Regions from separate parts of the Homo sapiens genome. Here region 1 is linked to region 2. The links come from fine-mapping of genetic effects on gene expression. A gene starts in region 2. The other region holds a variant in brackets. All regions are shown on one strand. Distances are between the middles of the regions.

Region 1 (2,903 bases), 46 kb before region 2:
ACGCCTGTAATTCCAGCACTTTGGGAGGCCGAGGGGGGTGGATCACTTGAGATCAGGAGTTTGAGACCAGCCTGGCCAACGTGGTGAAACCCCATCTCTACTAAAAATACAAAAATTAGCCGGGCGTGGTGGCGTTGCGCCTATAATCCCAGCTACTCAGGATCCTGAGGCAGGAGAATTGCTTGAGCCTGGGAGGCAGAGGTTGCAGTGAGCCGAAATCGCACCACTGCACTCCAGCCTGGGCAACAGAGAAAGACTCCGTCTGAAAATTAAAAAAAAAAAAAAAAAAGAGGAGAGTTTGTTGACTAATATGGGTCGTTGACATAAATATTCTGTGTGTGATTGTATTCAACACATTTCATTTTTTGGTTGTGATTTTTTTTTTTTTTTTTTTTTTTTGAGACGGAATCTCGCTCTGTCGCCCAGGCTGGAGGGCAGTGGCGCGATCTCGGCTCACTGCAAGCTCCACCTCCCGGGTTCACACCATTCTTCTGCCTCAGCCTCCCGAGTAGCTGGGACTACAGGCGCCCGCCACCACGCCCAGCTATTTTTTTTTGTATTTTTTTTAGTGGAGACGGGGTTTCACCGTGTTAGCCAGGATGGTCTCGATCTCCTGACCTTGTGATCCGCCCGTCTCGGTCTCCCAAAGTGCTGGCATTACAGGCGTGAGCCACCGCGCCCGGCTGGTTAATTGTGCTTTTTAAAAAATATCTCCCATCCCCATAAATATGTACACCTACTATGTGCCCACATAATTAAAAATTAAACAATTTTAATCCCCTAAAAATAAAAAAGGAGACCAAGCATGTGGAGAAATAAATGTCTCAACACACCATAAGGGTGTATTGGAGTGGCCCTTCTATGATTTTGACAATGATATTAAACGTCCTGGCCGGGCGCGGTGGCTCATCCCTGTAATCCCAGCATTTTAGGAGGCCGAGGCAGGAGGATGGCTTGAACCTAGGACTTAGAGGTCAGCCCAGGCAACATAGCGAGACCGCGTCTCTACAAAAAAAAAAAAAAAAAAAAAAAGCAAGTATCTTGCATTTGCAATTCGTCGGATGCCTGCAAAGTTCCGTGGGTGTGTGATGTAGGAATCTGGGGCACGGGAAGTTATTCTTGCTTC[A/G]TTTCCTGACGCTGACCGGCTGGGCGGGGTCCCTGGGGCACCCGGGCACATTTGGACGTGTTTGGCAGGGAGAGTCCTGGCCCAGCCCCGGCACGTAGGGCCGCGCTTCCACGGGCCGCCGCCAGGAGACGCGCGAGGCTGTAGATGCGGCTTTGCAGAGAAGCTGGGAGGGTAGAGGGGCTGGGGCGGTCGAGGGGCGGGGCTGCGTGCAGCCGGCCCAGATTCCTTTCCGGCCAGTTCCTTCCAGGAGCTGCTCCCACGTCTACAGCGCCGTCTGCTACTCACCCAGCTCTCTTGTATCTGAGCCTCATTTTCCCACCGTCCTTTAAGCCCGTTTTCCCACTGCTCATTTGCAGCCAAGTTTCCATCTCGCATCTTTGCGTCCCCCTTCTCTGCACCCTCCTTTGCACCCCCATTTTCCTGCTTTCCCTTGAGTCCACATTTCCCAGACCTCCTTTGCCCCCTACATTTTCCAATGCTCTCTTGCATGCCCATTTATCACCCTCTTTTGTGCCCCCATTTCCAGGCCCTCAGCCCCTGGTTCTGAGGTTCCTTACTTCAAATGACCTTTTTTTTTTTTTTTTTTTTTTCCTGAAACGGAGGAGTCTCCCTCTGTCTCCCGGGCTGGAGTGCAGTGATGTGGTCTCGGCTCACTGCAACCTCCGCCTCCCGGGTTCAAGAGATTCTCCTGCCTCAGCCTCCCGAGTAGCTGGGACTGCAGGCACCCGCCACCACAACCGGCTAATTTTTTGTATTTTTAGTAGAGACAGGGTTTCACTGCATTAGCCAGGATGGTCTCGATCTCCTGACCTCGTGATCTACCCACCTCGGCCTCCCAAAGTGCTGGGATTACTGGCGTGAGCCACCGCGCCTGGCTTCAAATGACCTCTTAAATAAAGGTGTGGAAGGACACACTCCTGGCTGTGAACAGCACCCGTGGTCCAGGAGGAGACAGCACTCCTCTGTGAACATCTTGCTTAGTTCTACATGTTCCAAGAAGCAGGCGATTTGACAGACATTCATTAAATTAATTAAAGTGTAAGGTATTTTCTCCCATTTGAACCATCCGCCTTCCCCCAATCCATGCAGGACCTGGACCCAGACACACCCCAGCCCAGGGCTGGACAGAGAGGGGATCGGGGTGGGGCAATGTGAAGCTGCTATGGTTAGGGTGGGGAGGTATGGGGGCAAAGTGGGCTACAGACTGCAGGATCTAGGCCTGGAGGTCTTCAGTGCTGACATACAGAAGGTTTTTGGTCCTGAAATGCTAACTACATCTATCACCATGGAGAAAAGCCCAATGACCTGCTACTTGGGAGGCTAAGGTGGGAGGATCACTTGAGCCAGGGAGGTCGTGGCTGCAGTAAGCCATGATCACACCACTGCACTCCAGCCTGGGCAATGGAGCAAGATCCTGTCTCAAAAGAAAAAAACCCAGTGACCAATGGCTCACAGTTCCAGGACTCTCTGCCTTACAGGTTCCTGCCCTCATGTTACTCTTGGGGCTTCAAAGCCTGGTCTTGCTTCCTGTGTGGCCTCAGGCAGTTCCCTTGGCCTCTCTGAGCCCTGTATGAAGGATGGGCCAAGTATGGGCTTGGGCTTGGGAGGCCCGGTGGCTTGTAGCTAGATTTCTGCATCACAGAGCCTCTGGATCCATTCATTCATTCTCCGCGGGTTTCTTAAGTACTGCAGTGCCAGGCTTTGGGGACACAGCTGTTTTTGTTTTTGTTTTGTTTTGTTTGAGACAGAGTCTCACTCCGTCAACCAGGCTGGAGTG
Region 2 (2,903 bases):
TTGGGTGTTGACTTTGGCAGGTGTCAGCCACTGGGGCGCCTGCCGCCCACCAACTCATGCCAAATACAACCCCTTCTCTGAGTTCCAAGGGGAAGGGGTTTTCTATGTACAGGGCCCAGGTTTAGAGTCCAGTTCTACCCCCTAAATGGGTACTGCTATTTTCTATTTGTCAAAGGGGCCAGGCCTGTCTCCTTCTGCCCAAGGCTGACTCACTCCAGCCCCAGTCCACGGAGGCAGGAGTGAGAGTCCTTATACCCAAGGAAACGATCCCAGCCACTTAATTAACACAACCCCACCACCACGACCACTGCCGCCCACCCTTGGTCTTTCCAGGCAATCTGTCCCACGGCTAGGCTCCTTGAATCTGCCCACACTCCAACATGCTGCTTCATCCGAGTCCAAGGTGCTCCCTCAACCCTCATAACCTCTCCCAGGCCTCAGTTTCCCCAGCTGTCTATGGCCGCTGCGGGAACCGCACGGAGAGGCTGCAGAAGGCCTGGATGCAGGCGGGGCAGAGGCAGAGACAGCCCTGGCACAGCTATTTCTCAACTGCCTTTGGGGCTTTTTTCCATTTTAAACCAGGACCCAACCGGCCCCACCCCGTGTTCCAGGAGAACGAGTTTAAGGAGGGGAAGAGAAGAGGCAGGAAACCTTTCCCCACGCAGGGCAGGGCCGCAAGGCTGGGGCCCCCACCTCCCCCAGCCTTAGCTCACCTGTGTCAGTCGGTCCCGCCTCTTTCTAACCATCTGCCGACCCTCCCTCAAGCCTGGCCCCGGAGGGCTCGCCTCTGTTCCCCTTCACTAGATTTGGGGCGCCCCAGCCAATGCAGGTGGACTCAGGAGTTTCCCCCATCACCATATGGTCCCAACGCCTGTCCCCAGCTGGGCTCTCTGCCCCGCCCGCGCCCCATCAGCGCTTCCCAAGTGCCCAGCTGGGTGGGGGCGAGGGCAGAGGCGTTCCCCGCAGCCCCGCCTTTGTTCCCCAGACCCCCTACCTTCCTCCCAAACCCCCGTACCCCACAGACCTGCTCGGATGCGGAGGGGCCGGGTGGGCTGCGCTCCTTCCCAGGGGTGACCTCGCGTAGGGGGCGCCGCCTGCAGGGGTTCCGCCTGTGAACTCGCTGCGGCTTGGCCCTGGCCGCGACCCCGACCCCGCAGCCGCAGAAGCCAGCAGCCTGCAGCCACCCGGATCCCGCGCGGGCTCCGCCCAGAAGGCGGAGGAAGGGCCGTTCCCGGAGCGGGGGATGGGGGAGGACGAAGAGGGGCCGAGTCTTGGGCGGGGCTTTCAGAGAGCGGGTGGGAGGGGCTGGAAGCTGCACCAAGCGTCTAGAGCCCGTCCTAGCCAAGCAACATCTCATTTTCCCAGCTGCTTGTAAAGAGCTTCTACTATACGCACGGCTGTTAAAAGCATAGAGTCTTGGGCCTGGTTCGAGTCCCAGCTCCACCACTTTCTAGTCTTGTGGCTTTGGACGCGTTACTTAACCTCTTTGAGCCTCAGTTTCCCCATCCGTCAAGTAGCTCATAGCGAGAGTACCCAACCTCACAGAGTTGTGGGAGGATTCTGATCTGAGTTAGTGTTTGTCAAGTGCAGTGCCGGCCTTAAAGTAGGCTAGGCCAGGCGCGGTGGCCTGTAATTACAGCAGTTTGGGAGGCCGAGGCAGGAGAATCACTTGAGGCCAGGAGTTTGAGACCAGCTTGGGCATCGTAAGGAGACCTCATCTCTACTAAAAATAACAAAAATTAGCCAGGTGTGGTGGCGTGCGTCTGTAACCCCAGCTACTTGGGAGGCTGAGGCAGGAGGATTGCTGGAGACATCGAGGCTGCAGTGAGCCTTGATTGCACCACAGCACTCCAGCCTGGGCAACAGAGCAAGACCCTGTTTCAAATAAATAAAAATAAACGAGAGCTGGGCGCGGTGGCTTATGCCTGTAATCCCAGTACTTTGGGAGGCCAAGGCAGGCGGATCACTTGAGGTCAGGAATTTAAGACCAGCCTGGCCAACATGGTGAAACCTCATCTCTACTAAAAAAAAAAAAAAAAAAATACAAATATTAGGGGCTGGGCACGGTGGCTCACACCTGTAATCTCAGCACTTTGGGAGGCCGAGGTGGGCAGATCACCTGAGGTCGGGAGTTCGAGACTAGCCTGGCCAACGTGAAGAAACCCTGTCTCTACTAAAAAATACAAAATTAGCCAGGCGTGGTGACGCATGCCTGTAATCCCAGTTACTCTGGAAGCTGAGGCAGGAGAATTGCTTGAACCCGGAAGGCGGAGGTTGCAGTGAGCCGAGATCACGCCACTGCACTCCAGCCTGGGCAAAAAGAGCGAAACTCTGTCTCAAATAAATAAATAAATATACAAAAATTAGCCGAGCATGGTGGTGCACACCTGTAATCCCAACTACTTGGGAGGCTGAGGCAGGAGAATCGCTTGAACCCAGGAGGTGGAGGTTGCAGTGAGCCGAGATCGCGCCACTGCACTCCAGCCTAGACGATGGAGTGAGACTCTGTCTCAAAAAAAAAAAAAAAAAAATTAAAAAATAAATGAGGCTGGGCACAGTGTCTGATGCCTGTAATCCCAGCCCTTTGGGAGGCTGAGGCAGGAGGATTCCTTGAGCTCAGGAGTTCAAGGCCAGCCTAGGCAACATAGAGATCCCAACTCTACAAAAAATTTTTTTGAAAATTAGCTGGCCACAAAAAAAAAAAAAAAAAAAAAAAGAAAAAGAAAAAAAGAAAAAAGAAAAAAAAATTAGCTGACCATGGGGGCACATACATGTAGTCTTAGCTACTCCGGAGGCTGAGGCAGGGGGATTGCTTGAGCCTGGGAGAGAGAGAGGCTTCAGTAGGTTATGACTGTGCCACTGCACTCCAGCCTAGGTGACAGGGCAAGACTTTATCTCTAAAT

What was found. PIP is the estimated chance that this variant, and not a neighbour inherited with it, causes the effect.
Region 1: its variant is fine-mapped to the expression of RAB3D in whole blood (TOPMed, PIP above 0.99).

Annotation. Positions count from the first base shown.
Region 1 is chr19:11,292,702-11,295,604 of GRCh38, forward strand. No RefSeq gene overlaps it. Among named protein-coding and RNA genes, the nearest start is that of TSPAN16, 2.0 kb to the right of the region's middle. The variant A/G (reference allele first, on the strand shown) is at 1,127.
Region 2 is chr19:11,338,445-11,341,347 of GRCh38, forward strand. It overlaps RAB3D (RAB3D, member RAS oncogene family), which reads right to left and starts at 1,213. Exons shown (of 5, transcript NM_004283.4): 1 at 1,025-1,213. RefSeq lists a silencer at 996-1,255.